Homo sapiens: one gene and its partners. The protein of the gene in region 2 purifies or fractionates together with the protein of the main gene of each other region. This does not show direct contact. Each region holds a gene or a part of one and is shown on either strand. Other genes may lie near its edges.

Region 1 (4,601 bases), on a different chromosome or scaffold from region 2:
CTTTATTCTGGTCACTGATGTGTTTCGATTTTTTTTCTTTGTTTTTTTTTTCCCCTTCTTTTTATAGTCTTTCTTTTTTTAATCTTACCTGCTTTTACTTCTTAAGTTCTTGGTTTTTTTCCTGTTCCACACTTTCTTACTTTCCCCACTACCTTTCAAATGATGTACCATTTCCATTCTTTTCAAGGTTATCTTAAAATTCTTACCCTCATACCTGTCTTAGCCAAGGCTGCTGTAACAGAGTATCATGGACCCAGTGGCTTAAACAATACACAGTTCTAGAGACTGTGAATTCCAAGATCAGGGTGCCAGCAGATCCAGTGTCTGTGGAGGACCTGATTCCTGGTTTGCGGACTGCTGTCTTCTGGTTAATATCCTCACATGGCAGAGAGATAGATTGAGAACACTTATAAGGACACTAATCCTGTTCATGAGGGCTCCACCCTAGGATCTAATCACCTCCCAAAGGCCTGCCTCCTAATACGATCACATTGAGGGTTAGGATGTCAACATTTGAATTTTGGGGGGACACATTTACTCTGACAATACCTAATAAAGTATAATATTAATATCCCCTCTTCCAAAAAATACAAAGAACTTGTCTAGTCGCTTAGTCCTGTCTTTTTTTAATTGCTTGAGGTAGACATTATTATCTTCATTTGTTTAGATGGCATTTAAATTTATGAATATATTTGCAAGTTTCTCTGCTCCTCATTTGTTTTCGTCTCAGACCATTCCTGAAGTACGTTCTTTGAAAAGTCCTCTAGTGTGTGTAGAGCAGCTGGTGGTAAACATAGTGGCTTCAGTCGGTACACACTTGTAACTGATGATTCTCTCAGCACTTGGAAGATAGCATTCTGCAGTTTTGGTTCCATTTTTCCTGTTAAGAGATTTCTATCAGCTAAATGGTGTTCCATGGTAGGAAATATGTCTTTCTCTGTAACTTCCTTTAAACTCTTCAATTTTGATATTCTTTAGTTTCTCATAATATATCTAGGAGGAATTTTTTTTTTAATGTATCCTGCTTGATGTACATGTGTTTTCTTATTCTGTGAAATTCTTAGCTATTTTCTTTTCATATTCCTCTCCTTCATTTTTTCTGTTCTTTTATTTTTTTGAGACGGAGTTTCACTCTTGTTGCCCAGGCTGGAGTGCAGTGGTGTGATCTTGACTCACTGCAACCTCCGCCTCCTGGGCTCAAGTGATTCTCCTGCCTCAGCCTTCCAAGTAGCTGGGATTACAGGCGTGCTCCACCATGCCCAGCTAATTTTGTATTTTTAGTAGAGACAGGATTTCGCCATGTTGGCCAGTCTGACTTTGAACTCCTGACCTCGAGTGATCCACCCCCTTCAGCCTCCCAAAGTGCTGGGATTGCAGGCGTGAGCCACCATGCCCGGCCATTTTTTTTTTTTTATTCCTTTAGAGTTCCAATTAGATGCATGTTATAGACTGAATGTTTTTCTTCCCAAAAGTTACATGTTGAAATCATAACTCCCAATATGATGACATTAGGAGGTGGGGTCTTTGGGTGGTTATTAGGTCACAAGGGTGCAGCCCTCATGAATGGAATTTATTCAAGAGACACCAGAGAGCTCTTTCCTCTTTGTGCCATGGGAGCACTGAAGGAGAAGTCAGTAGCGTGTAATGTGGAGAGGCCCTCACCAGAACCCAACCATGATGGTACCCTCATCTCAAACTTCCAGCCTCCAGAACTGTGAGAAATAAATATCTGTTGTTAACAAGTCACCCAGTCTGTAGTACTTTGTTACAGCAACTAAGACAAGGCATCGTTAGGAGTTCTCATTCTTTCCTTTAGAACTCTAATATATCTGAGCTATGCTCTATCTCCTTGTATCTGTGCCGTGTACTGGGTAATATCTTCTGCTCTGTCTTTGAGTTCATTAAACCTCCTTTCATCTGAATCTCTGTTTATCCATTGAGGGGCCCTCCAGCCCCCAGCAATCCTGATTTTTATTATTAAAAGATCTATTTGGTTATTTTAGAAAATTGTCTACTTATTTTTGATGCTTACTGTTACTTGCTTATTTTTGTGACTCTGTCTTTATGTTTTATTCATAGTTATTGTAAATTCCCTATTTGCTGATTTCAATGTCTGAAGTCTTGATGGGTGGCTTTGGTTTATGGTAGATTATTTTCTTGTGTGTTGAATCTTTGGCTAAACAATTATTTGTTCTAAATTAGTGGAAAACCTGTTAGCCTCTTTTGAGAATGCTTTGCTCTGAAAAGGATTTGCATTTTATTTTACCACAGGCCTGAGGCTGCATTAAGTCTCCTTACAGGAGCCCTCGCTCCCAAGAATGTTGTGTTTAGTCCTCCCGCTTGCCGTCCCCTCCAGCAGGCCTCCTCTCCCAGCCCCACCAGCGTGTCCTCATAGTCCACCACCTTCATTTTTTTCATGTCGGTATTCACAGTTCAGCTCAGGGCTTTGGGGTTGCTTTACTTTGTCCCTTGGAGATTTTTTGTATGTTCTGTGGGCCCAGCAATGCAGCACACACACACACACACACACACACACACACACACACACACACACACACTCACACACATACACCATTTAGATCTTTAGTAGGAGGTCCCTTCAGAGTGTCCAGCCAACCGTTATCCTGGAAATAGAGGTTTCAAAGCATTTTTAAAATGAAAAAGACAAAGAAATGGAGGGAGGAAGGAAAGAGGAAAAGTAATACCATTATAATACTGAGCATTTGGATGATGGGAATAAAGAAGGAAAAAACTTTTAGATGATGGTCCTACCGCCCCAACACAGTACCTGTAAGATCAGAGCCAATTAATGAAGAGAGGGGCAAACATAAAAGAGGGAAAAGCTAAGACATTTCTATCTCATCATCACCTAATTCCCATTAGGCAAGCATTCTTTTGGAAAATAATTGAATACCTGAGCCTTTAAAGACTTAAAACTTATTTTTACTTGCTAATAACTCCCTGAAAAGTTACGTGGAAGAGTACTTAAAAAATCTTTCATTAAAATTTAGATAAATGCAGCTTATATTTTCTACATGTGATTTATACATCTCTGATATGTAGTTTTGAATGTTATTGTTCCTCTTCTTAATATATCACAGGACAAGGAGTAGATGAACCTCTTTCAGAAACTGGATTTAAACAAGCAGCAGCTGCTGGTATATTTCTGAATAATGTGAAGTTTACTCATGCTTTCTCCAGTGATCTCATGAGGACAAAGCAGGTACATTTATTTATTTATTTATTTTGAGACAGAGCGTCACTCTATGCCCAGGCTGGAGTGCAGTGGTGCAGTCTCTGTTCACTGCAACCTCCATCTCCCGGGTTCAAGTGATTCTGATGCCTCAGCCTCCCAATAGCTGGGATTACAGGTGTGTGCCACCACACCTAGCTAATTTTTGTATTTTTAGTAGAGATGGGGTTTTGCCATGTTGCTGGTCTCAAACCCCTAACCTCAGGTGATCCACTTGCCTCAGCCTCCCAAAGTGCTGGGATTACAGGCGTGAGCCACCACGCCCAGCAACAGGTGAGTTTAGAGTCAAGGTCTAGGCTGATGTGCCAAAAGTCTCAACAATTGTATAATCTTGAAAAATCTGCTACCAGAGTCTGTAGGGAATTAAATCCCAAACAGACATGACCTTCCTCAACAGAACTTATTTATTTTAATTTTATTTTGTACTTTTTAAAAAAAATAATTTTTAAATTAGAGTAGCCTAGAAAAAAAAGTCCAGCAAGAATATAAATAAGCTATTATGAGAGAGAGCAGGGAAAATGACAGGAGAAATTAATCCACTGTGACATCAGGTATTAGGATTACCAGATAGAGTAAGAAACCACTATGTCACTGTAAAGAAATAAAAGACTTGTTAGAAATATCTTCAGGGAACAGATTACTATAAAAATGAAAAACCAGTTGGGCATGGTGGCTCATGCCTGTGATCCCTGCACTTTGGGAGGCCGAGGCAGGTGGATCACTTGAGGTCAGGAGTTCAAGACCAGCCTGGCCAACATGGTGAAACCCTATCTCCACTACAAATACAAAAATTAGCCAGGTGTGGTGGCGTGCACCTTAATCCCAGCTACTTGGGAGGCTGAGGCAGGAGAATCGCTTGAACACAGGAGGCAGAGGTTGCAGTGAGCCAAGATCGTGCCGTTGCATGGTTGGGCTACAGAGCAAGACTCTTGTCTCGAAAATAAAAAAAAAGTAAAATTAAAAACGAACCCAGTCTACTTCTAAAAACTCCATGGAAGGAGAGTTTTGTGACCAACTGTGAGTGAGGTATTGTTGGAATTTCATCTCCCCTATAAACAATTAGAAAATGTGGCAAAATATGTGAAACCACTGTTTTCAGATATTAGACTTTGGGCACTGTGGGCCTATGATGCCTGAATGAAGTAGAACAAAGAAGGTGAGCCCTAGGGAGTGTCCTGGTTTTCTGGCTGAAGCAATTTCCAGACTCTGGTAGGGGAAGCCAAGTAGTGCTTAGAGGTCTCCGTGAGTTAAGGAGACAAAACTTGGAATTTGGGGAGGTTAATTTTTACATAACTTAAATTTGTGGGGCAGAGTAATGGAAGAAAGACGTGGATAGACAAAGAACTCT
Region 2 (4,601 bases):
AAATAAATTGTGGTGTTTTCACACAATGGAATACTGTAGAGCAGCAGTTCTCAAAGTGTGATTCAGGGACTCACAGGGAGACCCTTTCAAGGAGTTTGAAATATGTACTATTTTCATAATAATATTCAGATGTAATTTGTTCTACTTTCACTCATTCTCTCACAAGTATACAGTGATGTTCTAGAGGCTACATAATGTGATGTCATCACTCTGAAGGCCAGTGAAATTTGTGCTTGTATATTCTTGTGCTTGAACAATTTGTTTTAATTTCTAAAATGGTAATTATCTATTATACAGCCCACATAAACATATAGCTCTTTGTGACCCTCAATTATTTTTAAGAAGTGATTCTGACTAAAAAGTTTGAGAACCATGCTATCTAGTGATAAGAATGAAAAAACAGTAATTACACAACAACGCACAAACTTAATGTTGAGTGAAAGCCAGACCCAAGAGAATAGATTGTATGATTACATTTGTATAAAATTCAAAAACAAACAAAAAAAACCCAAACAAAAATTCAAAAACAGGCAAAATTTAACCTATGCGGTTAAAAGAACATCAGAGGCCAGGCATGATGGCTCACGCCTGTAATCCCAACACTTCGGGAGGCCAAGGCGGGTGGATCACTTGAGCTCAGGAGTTCAAGACCAGCCTGGGTAACAATGAGACCCCATCTCTCAAAAAATTTAAAAATTAGCCAGGCATGGCGGCACGCCCCTGTAGTCCCAGCTACTCAAGAGGTTGAGGTGGGAGGACTGCCTGAGCCCAAGAGGCTGAGGCTACAGTGAGCCAAGTTTGCACCACTGCACTCCAGCATGGGAGACAGAGCAAGACCCGGTCTCAAAAAAAAAAAAAAAAAAAGGTGAGAATATCAATACCTTTAGTGGGGTGGGGTTGTGGGGAGTGGCTGGAAAGATGCCCGAGGGATAATATTCTGCTTATTGATCTATATGCTTTTTACAGATGTATTCACTTTGCAAAAATTCAGTGAGCTGTACATTTATGATTTGCACTTCTGGTATTTTATACTGGATTTTGTATGGAATTCTAGGTTGAAATTTACTTCCACTGAACTTTGGAAGCTTATTCCATTGGTTTTTAGTATAAAATGTTGATGTTGGTAAGTCTCTTTACTTTATGGTTTTCCCTTCATCTCTGGAAGTTTCCTGTTTCTCCTTTTTATCCATAGCAGTCTGAAATGTCTAGTGATTAATGTCTTCATGAGGGTCTTTTTTCATTAATTATGCTGAGTATGTAGTGCCTTCAGCTCTGGGAAATTTATTATTTGTTAATCTCCTCCCCTGTGTTTTTTTTCTGAAATTTTTTTAGATGGATGCTAGACACCCTAGATTGAACTTATAATTTTTATCTTTTCTCTTATATTTTTGAAAGATTTACTCAATTTGTCCTTAATTTTGGCAATAACATTTTCTATTAACCACTGTTTCTCTGATAATTCCTGTTTCATAGCATCTGTTCTTGTTTTATAGACATGTCTTTTTTACTCTCTTTGGAGACAGCATTTACAAAATCTGAGTGAGTTTGGGGACACTTTCTTTTCCTATATAGTTGTACTATATAGACTTTTTCCAGTCTCTTTTTTGGGTGCTTTATTTTGTTGTTTCCTATTCAAAACTGTTGGAGACTTCACTTTTGTTGGAGTGCTGGGATTACAGGCGTGAGCCACTGCACCCATCAGTAAAAGTAATCTTAATTGCTGAAATGACACTTGAAAAAAAAAGCAAAACTAAGACTAGAGACATAATGATAAATAGTAACTACTTTTTTAAATTGCATTAACAAAATCTACAATCAGCCGAGCACAATGGTTCATGCCTATAATCCCAGTACTTTGGGAGGCCATGGTGGGAGGATAGCTTGAGGTTGGAAGTTCAAGACCAGCCTGGGCAACATAATGAGACTCCCATCTCTACAAAAAACTTAAAAATTAGCTGGTGTGGTGGTGTGCACCTGTAGTCCCAGCTACTCAGGAGGCTGAGGCCAGAGGACGGCTTGAGCCCAGGAATTTGAGGCTGCAGTGAGCTATGACTGTGCCACTGTAATCTAGCCTGAGCAACAGAGTTAGACTCTGTCTCTAAAATTTTTGACCACCATCTCCAGCTAATTCTTTGTATTTTTTGTAGAGACGGGGTTTCATTATGTTGCCCAGGCTGGTCCCAAACTCCCAAGCTCAAGCAATCTGCCTGCCTTGGCCTTCCAAAGTGCTGGGATTACAGGTGTGAGCCACTGCACCCAGCCCTGTCTCTAAAAATTAAAACAAACAAAAACCTACCATCTCTTACTTGTCCTATGATAGCTTCTTAAATTGAACTCCCCATCTTCACTCAGGCCCTTCATTAATCTAGCTTTCACATTGCAGCCAAAGTAGTATTTCTAAATCACGAATGTTATATTTCCCTTTTAACTGGCCTCTGCCCTCTGGATAAAATCTAAAGTACTCAACATAGTCTAAAAGATATTTTTGGATCTCGCTTACTCACCTTTTCAGCCCATTTCTCACCATCCTCCCACCTGTCTTTGTCTTACTCTACATTCACCTTTTCCCTCTGCCTGCAACACTCTGTGTGAGGTAGGTTCTTTAACTCTTACCATTTCACCAGTGGCGTAGAGAAGCAGCTTGCCCTGTCATGTAGCCAGTATGCAGCAGAGCCAGATTCTAACCAGGGCAGTCTGACTCCCTAGCTACGGCTCTTAAACCACCAAATACTTCCAAAGTTAGTTGTTATTTTCTCTGCAAATCCTTCCTGACCTCAAGGCAAAATAAATCTTTAATTTGTCCATTTCTATCTCTAATGCCACCACTCCAATTCAAGTCAGCATCTTCTCTCATGTAGACTTTCTCAAAGGGCACCTAGCCTTCCTGACTCTCCTTCTGCCTCCTCCAATCATTTATATGGGAGCCAAAAAATATTTTATAAATGCAGATCATTTCCACTGAGCTTATAAAATCAAAATCTAAATTTTTCATCCTGGCTTTATAAGCTCCGGCATGATTTGGTGCCTATCTTTCCAATTTCACTGTGCATGTTTCTGTCTCTGTTGCTTATTCCATGCCAGCTACACTGGCCTTATCATAGCTGCCCAAATAGGTCAATACTTTCACACCACAGGGCCTATATTTATACAGTGTGCTCTTTCAGATAAGTTCTACACACTTGCACACACCACATACTCTGCATGGATGGCCCTCTCATTCACACTTTAGGCCTCCAATGATGTCAGTTCCTCAGAGACATTCTCTGACACCTAACTGAAAGTACATCTTCCTTCTTGGTCGCCTGATAGGATCCTGTTCTTCTTCTTCCATTTTTTTTTTTTTTTTTTTTTTAGATGGAGTCTCACTCTGTCGACCAGGTTGGAGTGCAGTGGCGCTATCTCGGCTCACTGCAAGCTCCGCCTTCCGGGTTCATGCCATTCTCCTGCCTCAGCCTCCCCAGTAGCTGGGACTACACGCGCCCACCACCACACCCGGCTAATTTTTGTATTTTCAGTAGAGACGGGGTTTCATCGTGTTAACCAGGATGGTCTCGATCTCCTGACCTCGTGATCCGCCCGCCTCGGCCTCCCAAAGTGCTGGGATTACAGGCGTGAGCCACCACACCCAGCCTCTTCTTCCTAATACTTAATCCAAATTGTAGTTATGTAACTATATATTTGCATTGATTTGTTTCTTGTACTGTTATACTTACTGAACTACACACTTCACAGGGCTAGGGATCATATCTATTTTTTCCTCCCTTCTAGCCTAGCAACAGTACCTGGTACATAATAAAGCAATTAGTAAATGTTTTGTTGAATATATCTGCATTTATCCTGTAACTTCCCTCTCATATCCCAGGGGTTTCTGGTTTGAGAAACAGAGCATTAACTACAATTAAAAACATTCGTTTTTAAATATATGAAGTGTTTCATAAATTTGCATGCTATCCTTGTGCGTGGACCATGCTAAGCTTCCTGTATCATTCGATTTTAGTGCAGGCATACCTTAGAGATATTGTGGGTTTAGACCACCATAATGAAGTGAATATCGCAATAAAGTGAGTCACATGAATTTTTTGATTTCCCAGAGCATGTAAAAGTTATGTTTACACTGGCCGGCCGCGGTGGCTCACGCCTGTAATCCCAGCACTTTGGAGGCCGAGGCGGGCGGATCACGAGGTCAGGAGATCGAGACCACCCTGGCTAACATGGTGAAACCCCATCTCTACTAAAAATACAAAAAAAATTAGCCGGGCTTGGTGAGGGGCGCCTGTAGGGTCAGCTACTCGGTAGGCTGAGGCAGAAGAATGGTGTGAACCCGGAAGGTGAGCTTGCAGTGAGCCGAGATAGCGCCACTGCCCTCCAGCCTGGGCGACAGAGCGAGACTCCGTCTCAAAAAAAAAAAAAAGTTATGTTTACACTATACTATAAAACGTGCAATACTACTATGTCTAAAAAGACAGCGTACACCTTCATTTTAAAATACTTTATCGCTAAAACAAAGCTAATGATCATCTGCACCTTCGGCAAGTCCTAATCTTTTTGCTGGTGGAGGATTTTGCTTCAATGTTGATGGCTGTTGATTGATCAGGTTTATG
Region 3 (5,364 bases), on a different chromosome or scaffold from region 2:
GAACTCAGAACAAGCTTGTCCAGGATGCATGCGGCCCAGGATGGCTTTGAATGCGGCCCAACACAAATTTGTGAACTTTCTTTTTTTTTTTTTTTTTTTTTTTTTTTGAGAAGGAGTCTCGCTCTGTCACCCAGGCTGGAATGCAATGGCGTGATCTTGGCTCACTGCAAGCTCCGACTCCCGGGTTCATGCCATTCTCCTGCCTCAGCCTCCCGAGTAGCTGAGACCACCGGCACCTGCCACCACGCCTGGCTAATTTTTTGTATTTTTAGTAGAGACGGGGTTTCACCTTGTTAGCCAGGATGGTCTCAATCTCCTGACCCTGTGATCCGCCCATCTCGGCCTCCCAAAGTGCTGGGATTACAGGCGTGAGCCACTGCGCCCAGCCAAATTTGTGAACTTTCTTAAAACATTATGAGATTTTTTTGCAATTTTTTAAAGCTTATCAGCTATGGTTACTGTTAGTCTATTTTAGGTGTGACCCAAAACAACTTTTCATCTTCCAATGTGGCCCTGGGAAGCCAAAAGATTGGACACCCCTGACTTCGGATGTTTATTTTATTTTATTTATTTATTTATTTTGAGACGGAGTCTTGCTCTGTCGCCCAGGCTGGAGTACAGGGGCTCAATCTTGGCTCACTGCAACTTCCTACTCCTGGGTCCAAGCGATTCTCCTGCCTCAGCCCCGAGTAGCTGGGATTACAGGTACCTGCCACCACGCCTGGCTAATTTTTGTATTTTTAGTAGAGATGTGATTTCACAATGTTGGCCAGGCTGGTCTCAAACTCCTGACCTCAAGTGATCCACCCACCTCAGCCTCTGAAAGTGCTGGGATTACAGGCGTGAGCCACCGTGCCCGGCCAAGTTTTGTCTACATTTCTACATGCACTTTTCTGGAGAGAGGTTCTATAGCTCTCAACAGATTCTCAAAGAGTCAAAATTCACTTGCCCCACCCCCACCCCTGTGATTGAACCATTTTAATCAGGATAATTTTTACCTACAAACAACAAAAGTTGTTACCAAAAAGTAAGGTTGTATGGATCCAGTCAGGCTTGCATTTATTTATTTATTTATTTATTTATTTGAGACAGAGTATAGTTCTTTCGCCCCGACTGGAGTGCAGTGGCACAATGATCTCTGCTCACTGCAATCTCAGCCTCCCGGGTTCAAGCAATTATCCTGTCTCAGCCTCCCAAGTAGCTGGGACTACAGGCATGTGCCACCATGCCCGTCTAATATTTGTATTTTTAGTAGAGAGGGGTTTTGCCATGTTGGCCAGGCTGGTCTCGAACTCCTGACCTCAGGTGATCCGCCCACCTCGGCCTCCCAAAGTGCTAGGATTATAGGTGTGAGCCACCGTGCCCAGTCAAGCCAGGCTTTTAATTTCATTCTGTATTCTTTAAATTCTACATTAACAAAATACAATGCTTCATAGTTTGCTAAAACAATGTGTTTTTACAAGACAAACTTTCTACAGTTCCACTTCTTTTTTTTTTTTTTTTTGAGACGGAGTCTCGCGCTGTTGCCCAGGCTGGAGTGCAGTGGCGGGATCTTGGCTCACTGCAAGCTCCGCCTCCCGGGTTCACGCCATTCTCCTGCCTCAGTCTCCCGAGTAGCTGGGACTACAAGCGCCTCCCAGGTTCACGCCATTCTCCTGCCTTAGCCTCCCGAGTAGCTGGGACTGCAGGCGCCTGCCACCACGCCTGGCTAATTTTTTTTTTATTTTTAGTAGAGATAGGGTTTCACCGTGCTAGCCAGGATGGTCTCGATCTCCTCACCTCGTGATCTGCCTGCCTCGGCCTCCCAAAGTGCTAGGATTACAGGCGTGAGCCACCGCGCCCCGCCTACAGTTCCACTTCTTAGAAGACTGTATGGTATGAAAATAATGTACAAGAGTTTGGGTCATAACAATTTACTTTTCTATGTCTCTAATTTTGTTTATATGTTTTGAGAAAGGGTCTTGCTCTGTTCCTCAGGCTGGAATGCAATGAGTAATCACGGCTCACTGCAGTCTCAACCTCCTAGGCTCAAGTGATCCTCCAGCCTCAGCCTCCCCAGAAGCTGCAGGCGTTTGCCACCACACCTGGTTAATTTTTAATTTTTTGTAGAGACAGGTTTGGGGAGGGGGTCCTTAGCACGTTGACTAGGCTGGTCTCGAACTCCTGGGCTCAAACAATCCTCCTGCATAGGCCTCCCAGTGTTGGGATTACAGGCATGAGCCACAGCACCTGGACAATTTCCCAGATATAGTAAACTGCTGAACCACCTTAGGGTGCGTTTCAGCCTTAGAGGTCTTTTCTCTGCTAGTTACAAAGCAAGATCCAGAGTATCATTCTAGGTTTATCAAAAATCTCTCTTCCCTAGACAATGGCTGGATAGAGGAAGAAAAAGCAGGCCCTTTGATTAGAGACACACCTTAATGCTGGCTTTACATTCTCAGTCACGTGTTTTAAGCAAGATTTGAAATTCCTTCTCTAGAGTCTCGCTCCAGAGAGCGCCCTAAACCGAAATGGGAAACTGAGGCTAAGGTTCCAAGTACCTTCAAACCGCCGGTACAGTACAAGGGCACAGAAGAGCGGAGACCGCGGACAAGGAAAGCCAGCATAAAAGCTGGAGGGGAGAAAGAAGAAAGGCGATCGGGCTGCCCTGAGTGAGGAATTCAGGGAAGCCAGCAGGGATTTAAGAGCAGCCTCCCGAGTCCGTGGGGGCAACGCCACAGTTCAGCCCCTTCCCCTCCCTCAGCTCGAGTCTTCCCGCCCCGTGCCGGTCAGCCCGAAGACCCCAGCGCCGCCCAGACCCGCCTTCCCCACAGACCCCGCCACCTGTCAGTGAAAGGCCGCAGCCAGGGGCAAAGAGGTGGTCCAGTGGCTCAGAGGTCCCCAATGGGCCAAAGTTGCCCTAAAACCCGGGGAGTGGCCTCGGCCTCCGCCCCCCGGCCCGGCCTTGCCAAGCTTTACCTTGAGTGCCAGGTGATGGACGCGGCCCAGGCCAGGCTCGGCCAGCAACTGCAGCAAACCCAGCATTGGGAGCAGCCGGAGGCCCGCGGCCAGCCTAGGACCGCGGGAGGCGGGGGAGCCGACGGGCGCCAGAGCGGCCATGTTTGTTCCAGCATCACCAGCCGCTTCCTCTCCCGCCCACGTCCGGGGTGAAAGGGCGCAGCCGCCGGAAGGGCCCGGGGAGCGGGGCTCGGCGGCTAGCTCCGCTGACCCTGTGGTCGTTTTCCTGGAGATTGCGACCTAGGAAGTCGTCGAGGAGCCTGTGCTGCCCACCTCGGGGCCCTTCGATCGGCCGCTCCTGTGCAGACTTTCAGTTAGAGATGAAGCCAACCTATTGGCGGTTGCCATAACAACGGTGGCCGAACCAGACCAGCCCGGGCCGCACCTCCGCCTCGCTGAGCTTTGGAAGCGACCTTGGGCTCCGGGGACCCCTGATCTCAGGGTCGGGGGATAAGCTGTGTCAGCCGCACGGTGTCGGGCCACTGATTGAACTGATTTCACTGAGCGTTGACTCGGAGGAAAATATCTAAAAATTCCCGGCTCGCCGTAGGGGTCCTGTGGTTTTCTAGGCGCTTCACACTCAAATACAAGCGAAATGGTTGCAATAATACGATTGATTGAGCCCTTATGAGGCAATTTGTTAGGCCTTTTGTTGTATTTAATTTTTGGAACAATTTGATGAGCTAGGAGGTACGTATTATCATTATTCCTACTTTACAGGTAAGCAAACTGAGGCTCTGAGAAATAAGTCATTTGCTCCAGGTTGAGCTGGGAATCACACGGAAGCTCTTAACTCCTGTGTTCTGTTGCCTCATGCTATTTCATCCAACCCCAAGTCTGGGTCTTAACATTTTTCTCTTAATTCTGTATGGAAACTTTCTTTGCTTCTTTCAGAAATTATAGGAACTTCTTTTTTTTGAGACGGAGTCTAGCTCTTGTCACCCAGGCTGGAGTGCAATGGCACGATCTCAGCTCACTGCAACCTCCGCCTTCTGGGTTCAAGCGATTCTCCTGCCTCAGCCTCTGGAGTAACTAGAATTACAGGCCTGCGCCACCACGCCCGGCTAATTTTTGTATTTTTAGTAGACACGGGGTTTCTCCCATGTTGGCCAGGCTGGTCTCGAACTCCTGACCTCAAGTTATCCTCCCGCCTCGGCCTCCCAAAGTGCTGGGATTACAGGCGTGAGTCACTGCGCCCAACCTGCTTTGGAGTACTTTTTATCTTTTAAAGTTAAGTGGCATCTTTGAAAATCTCTGGTTTTAAATTTGAATATAATACTGTACTAAAAACGAAATGAGGCCTGGCAGGGTGGTGATTCGCGCCTGAATCCCAGCACTTTGGAACGCCGAGGCGGGCGGATCACTTGAAAGTCAGTTGTTCGGGACCAGCCTGGGCAACATGGCAAAACCTCGTCTCTACTAAAAATACAAAAATTAGCGGGGCATCACGGCCGCGCGCCTGTAGTCCCAGCTACTGGGGAGGCTGAGGCAGGAGAAGCACTTGAACCTGGGAGGCAGAGGTTTCAGTAAGCCAAGATCATGCCACTGCACTCCAGCCTGGGTGACAGAGTGAGACTCTGTCTCAATAAAAAAAAAATCAGGTAAGAATCTTAATCCCATTTTATAATACAATAGTGATGAAACATTAAAATAGTTTTAAATAGGAGACTTTTGTCTTAGTTTCTGGACAACAGTTTTATAAGGGCTTAAAACTGGGTTCATAGCATTCCTTGCTTCTCTATACTTGGGTATTATCATGTGACCTACATAGGGTCATACCAGTGCTGTCTGTCCAGGGGTTTAAGAGGATATCTTCTTCTTTCACATATTTGAAAGCTGTATTGTGCCAGTCATTATTTTGGAATTGAGAGGAATAAGAATGAGGGAAAACTGACTACAAAGACATTGTTGAGCATTTTCTCTACAGTTACTTCTTAAATTCTAGAAAACTGCTGCCTTGACAATTACATTTAGCCATGTGATTTCATAGTTTCAAGAAAAGATTATTTGCATAATCATGATGCTGTAACTGGAAACAAACAGGCTGAGTAACAGAACAAGTTATGCCTGCTTCTCCTGGCAACATTTTCAAAGGGACATTACACTTTAAGGTATTGACTGAAAAAGCCTGCAGGGGCTGGAAAGACTGATCTCCTAAGCTTGGCTTTTAGCCTTACTCTCTTAGTCAAGTACATTTTATTTTTCTATTTTCTCTCCTTTTTTTTTTGAGACAGAGACACTGTTGCCCAGGACTGAGTGCAGTGGTGTGACATCTGTTCACTGTAGTCTCCACCTCCCAGGTTCAAGGGATTCTCATGCCTCAGCCTCCCTAGCTGGGACCACAGGTGTGCGCCAGTATGCTCAGCT
Region 4 (4,601 bases), on a different chromosome or scaffold from region 2:
TTGAAACTAGGGTATATAGACTTTTTAAGTATGCACATATATATGTAAATACAGAAAGTAGTGGCAATATGCTTAGTTGATTTTGTTTAGGCAAGTTTAGTCATTTTATTTCTTAAAACTTTTTTACATGTATTAATGTAAACATTTATGAAGAAAAAAGAAATAGAAACCTTATAGTATCAAACACAGATCGTAAACTTGCTCATTTTGTAATTAGGAAGTGAAAATGTGCCTTTCTCAATCTCTAAATGTATTAAATGGTTGAGTACCGTACTCTAACAAATCAGCAAAATTACAAGGAAACAAATATCTCTGAAGAGTCAGTGAAATGGGAGAATTATAAAATGACCAGTCTACTTTCTCAATATGCTTTCATTTATTAAGCACTTGCTATGTGTAAGGTCCTAGGAACCCCAGAGACATGACACCATGTTCCATGCTCTACATAGCTGTGGTGGCAGGACATGCAAAATAACCTACATACACTATGAAATAAGTAGTAATACACTGGGATTCCATATCCTATGGAGGTAGAGAAGCAATTAAAGTACCGAGCAAAGTATTGAAGAAAACCTAGACACTACCAGAGTATAAGAGTCAGGATGGCATCTCTCTAACCATCACTATTTTCATCTGTCAGACAAGGCCAAGGATTGTGAGTGTGGATAAGAGTGGAAGAAGAAAATAGATCTTTTAACCTCTATTCCATGCTTAAGATTCTATAGTTCTGACCCCACTGGAAATCCAGTGGTTGAAAACTTAATGGCAGTTTATAGAGAAGAAAACTTCTCCTAACAGAAGAGATGAAACTTCCTCTAGGGCAGAAAGCAAGTGTAGGATATCAGTTAGTAGAGAAGAGGGCTTTCTTGCATGGAACATTACATGTGGTATGTTGAGGGGCTAGTGAATTTTGTTGATTGGTGTGGATTTATGGGGATGAAAAATATGATTTCAGAGTAACATATGATACAGATTAAGAAGTCCTGCATTTAAGAAATTTGACTTAGATTTTATTAGTGGAGTAGTGAAAAGCCATGGATATATTTAGGATGTTGCTGAAGTAGAACAAAAAGTTAGCCCATCAAAAATGCATGGCGTAGCTGAGAAAACATTACTGGAGTCTGACCAGCTGAATTTGATTCCTAATTCTGCCACTTGCTAGCCATGCACCCCAGTTCAAGCTACCTAACTTCTGAGCCTCTACTTTCTCATATTTGGTGGAGATGTTCACATTCCTCTTAAGATGGAATGAGAGTTCTTGTGGGAGTTAAATGACATACTGAATATTAAATCCCTAGCCACATAACTGTCACAAAGTGTAAATTCAACAAATGGGTTTCTTCCTTCCCTAGTTTCTTCTCTTTCTATTACTGGAGAATCTCTTGGCAAAACTAATTACTTTGTACAAAAAGTAAGAACAAAGGTTAGATTACTCTGAAGGGCAGTTGGTTCGTTTCTGGCCTGGTTATCTAACAACACATTTCACTGAGAACATTAAAGATAAAATAATCAAAAGGAATGCAAGACTAAAGTAGACCAAACATGTCAATTTCGTTGAACATAATTTGGTCAGACTTTAAGGTGAAGGCATAAAGAAATCAAATAAGAGAAGGACTGAAAACAGGAATCAACCATCAGTAATTTCCTAAAAATCTAGAACATGAGTATAGATAATTTCTTTCAAATACAAAGGAAAAAGTTGTGGGTTTTTTTTTTTTTACTTCAAAAATTCAACTAGAGAATGCTACAGTTAAAGTGTACCTGAAACCAAATTTGGTGAATTTAATAACCAAGTCATTTGCTGCAAGATGTTCCAAGAGTTACAAGTTATTACTCAGGCGATAACCTCAAATGACTCCCAAGAGTTAAATTATAAATTTTCCTCAACAATAGAGAGAATTGATCAGTTGAGAACAGAGTCCTCAAAGAGCGAAAAATGGTGTTATGCAGACCCCAGTGTGTTTGAAGGTGATACAGAGTATGCAAATCTTGATTTTGCATCTCTGATCATAGTGTTGGCTCTGGGATTAGTTAAAAGACAGAAATTCCTCCCTTTGTGTAACTGTACTGTTTCACTTAGGTTAACGTAGGTCCTTTAAGACTTTGCTAGTATGCCATTTTAAACTTGATTGGCTCTTAGCCCCTCCCACCATATTTTTTTCCTCCTGTCCCATAGAAAAGGGAGCAAGGAAGTGTAAACTAATGGTCGTATAGTGAGAACACAAATGAATTTTTTTTCTTGATATTTACCAAGTGTGTTCAGCAAACAGTTCTTCTGTGCCTACTTAATTAGTGCCAGTCTTAATCCTGGGTACAGAGAGGAAATCAGATGTAATGTGGTACTAGTGCCTTTTTTTTTTTTACAGTGTGGACCCTGGACAAGAAGCATAGGTTGATATCACTTGCAAGTTTATTACCAATGCCAACTCAGGCTTCACTCGAGACCTGCTAATTCAGAATCAGTATTTGAATAAGGTCCCAGGTGATTTGTACATTGAAGATTTTAGAAGTATACAAACAGTAACTCACAGACATAGTAAGATGAAGAGAAATCCAAACAGATGTTTGGGGCTATGTCGTAGATATAGTATAGGCATAGGAATCCTAAGGAGCAGGACATATTTCAGCCTGAATATGACAAAAATCCCACTTATTACTCTCCTGAGAGCTTCAAGTGCCTATATGACCCAAAATACAATGGAAAGCCTATTGGCGAAAGTCATGGGTTGATTGATCTAACCCTGAGATAAAATACTTATTAAAATATTATCTTTTAATGGGTTTCAGACAACTGAGGCTAAGCCCTTTAATTACTTTAAGGACCATGCTCACTGAAGCTTTTAAAAGGTATTTTCAAAAGCTTAATTGCCCAAGAAAATAATCAGTGTAAGAGTATTAGGTTACCCAGCAGAAAATGATGTCTTCTACATACCTGTCTACATCACAAGAAGGGAGGGGTAAAAAAGGATCAAGATCTTATTCTTCTGTAAGCCTACATGTGCATGAGTGTTATGATTTTGAGACTACTCTTATATACATGTAATTTGATCCTCTTATCAAAACAATATAGAGAATAACTGAGCCCAATCTTTTTAGTCATCTCTTCAACAAGGGGTAAATCAGTCAGTTTCTAAAACTGGTGGGAGGTCTCCATAAACCTGATAACAAGATCCCAAAATCCAAACTGATTGACTGAGTTAATTCCTGATCATTTGGGTTGAACTTAAGAGTTATACAAGAAAATGGTAGGGGACGAGGAGGTTGTATAAAGGGGAAAAAACAACAACTGCAAAAAGCCCAAGAGCCTGAATTTAGACCAATCTATCATCTTCCTCCTCTTAAAAAGAAAACAATTTAAAAGTTTTAAATAAAAAATAAAGGTCATGTTTTTGTTTTGCCAAGAATCAAAAGATTTTGCTGAAACTACTGCTGCAAAATATTTTGTTTCAAGCCATCTTAGGGCACCTCAGACTAAAAATGAAACCATGATCAATTTCTATCCCCTTACCACTTCTATGACAATCACACATGGTAAATACAAGCTCTGCTCTAGTACTACAATAAAACTGTAGAACTAGAGTAGACCTTGTAGTGATCATATATTACTACTTCTCCTCTTGTCCTATGTCCATCTTATTTCAATCTAAACTAGAAATGACAAAATTCTTGTTGGGTCGAATTGTCTTTTGAGTAGTTTTAGAGCTTTTTGTTTTCATTTCTCCAAGATGATCTTGTTGCATCTGCAGTTCGAGTTTTTAAAATCAAGTAGAATAATGTCAAAAGGGGACAATTTATGTGAGAAATCAACTGACAGTACATGATTATTTAAAATGAAAGTTTTAAAGAAAATTTTCCCCACAAGGGAATCTGTGTAAGACCAGAAATCTTATGATTGGCTAGCTACTATATAAAATGCTCTGTACACAAGAAATATTTTCTATTGTCCCTAGCCAGTAAAACAAGAACAAACTCGTACCAAACATGAACTACAGTATATTTATACTGCTGTGCTAAATGGTGTTTGTGGGTATGTTTTTCTTCTCTCTAGGGGAGAGTACGGTTTCCATGAATATACAGAGGTCAAAACAGTCACAGTGAAAATCTCTCAGAAGAACTCATAAAGAAAATACAAGAGTGGAGAGAAGCTCTTCAATAGCTAAGCATCTCCTTACAGTCACTAATATAGTAGATTTTAAAGACAAAATTTTTCTTTTCTTGATTTTTTTAAACATAAGCTAAATCATATTAGTATTAATACTACCCATAGAAAACTTGACATGTAGCTTCTTCTGAAAGAATTATTTGCCTTCTGAAATGTGACCCCCAAGTCCTATCCTAAATAAAAAAAGACAAATTCGGATGTATGATCTCTCTAGCTTTGTCATAGTTATGTGATTTTCCTTTGTAGCTACTTTTGCAGGATAATAATTTTATAGAAAAGGAACAGTTGCATTTAGCTTCTTTCCCTTAGTGACTCTTGAAGTACTTAACATACACGTTAACTGCAGAGTAAATTGCTCTGTTCCCAGTAGTTATAAAGTCCTTGGACTGTTTTGAAAAGTTTCCTAGGATGTCATGTCTGCTTGTCAAAAGAAATAATC

Evidence for each region. Proteins that work in one complex are often made in the same cells at the same time.
Region 1: the proteins of ALG8 (region 2) and TIGAR purify together in Homo sapiens (affinity purification with mass spectrometry; one large-scale study listed by BioGRID and IntAct). This does not show direct contact.
Region 3: the proteins of ALG8 (region 2) and GPR107 purify together in Homo sapiens (co-immunoprecipitation; one large-scale study listed by IntAct). This does not show direct contact.
Region 4: the proteins of ALG8 (region 2) and ALDH1A1 purify together in Homo sapiens (affinity purification with mass spectrometry; one large-scale study listed by BioGRID and IntAct). This does not show direct contact.

The regions. Positions count from the first base shown.
Region 1 is NC_000012.12:4,333,938-4,338,538, forward strand, and holds part of TIGAR (fructose-2,6-bisphosphatase TIGAR), read left to right. Parts: intron 1-3,101; coding exon 3,102-3,223; intron 3,224-4,601.
Region 2 is NC_000011.10:78,129,504-78,134,104, forward strand, and holds part of ALG8 (dolichyl pyrophosphate Glc1Man9GlcNAc2 alpha-1,3-glucosyltransferase), read right to left. Parts: intron 1-4,601.
Region 3 is NC_000009.12:130,051,668-130,057,031, reverse strand, and holds the start of GPR107 (protein GPR107 isoform 3 precursor), read right to left. Parts: upstream 3,127-5,364; 5' UTR 3,100-3,126; coding exon 2,959-3,099; intron 1-2,958. UniProt on the Homo sapiens protein: Has been proposed to act as a receptor for neuronostatin, a peptide derived from the somatostatin/SST precursor.
Region 4 is NC_000009.12:72,900,728-72,905,328, reverse strand, and holds part of ALDH1A1 (aldehyde dehydrogenase 1A1), read left to right. Parts: intron 1-4,048; coding exon 4,049-4,121; 3' UTR 4,122-4,601. UniProt on the Homo sapiens protein: Cytosolic dehydrogenase that catalyzes the irreversible oxidation of a wide range of aldehydes to their corresponding carboxylic acid.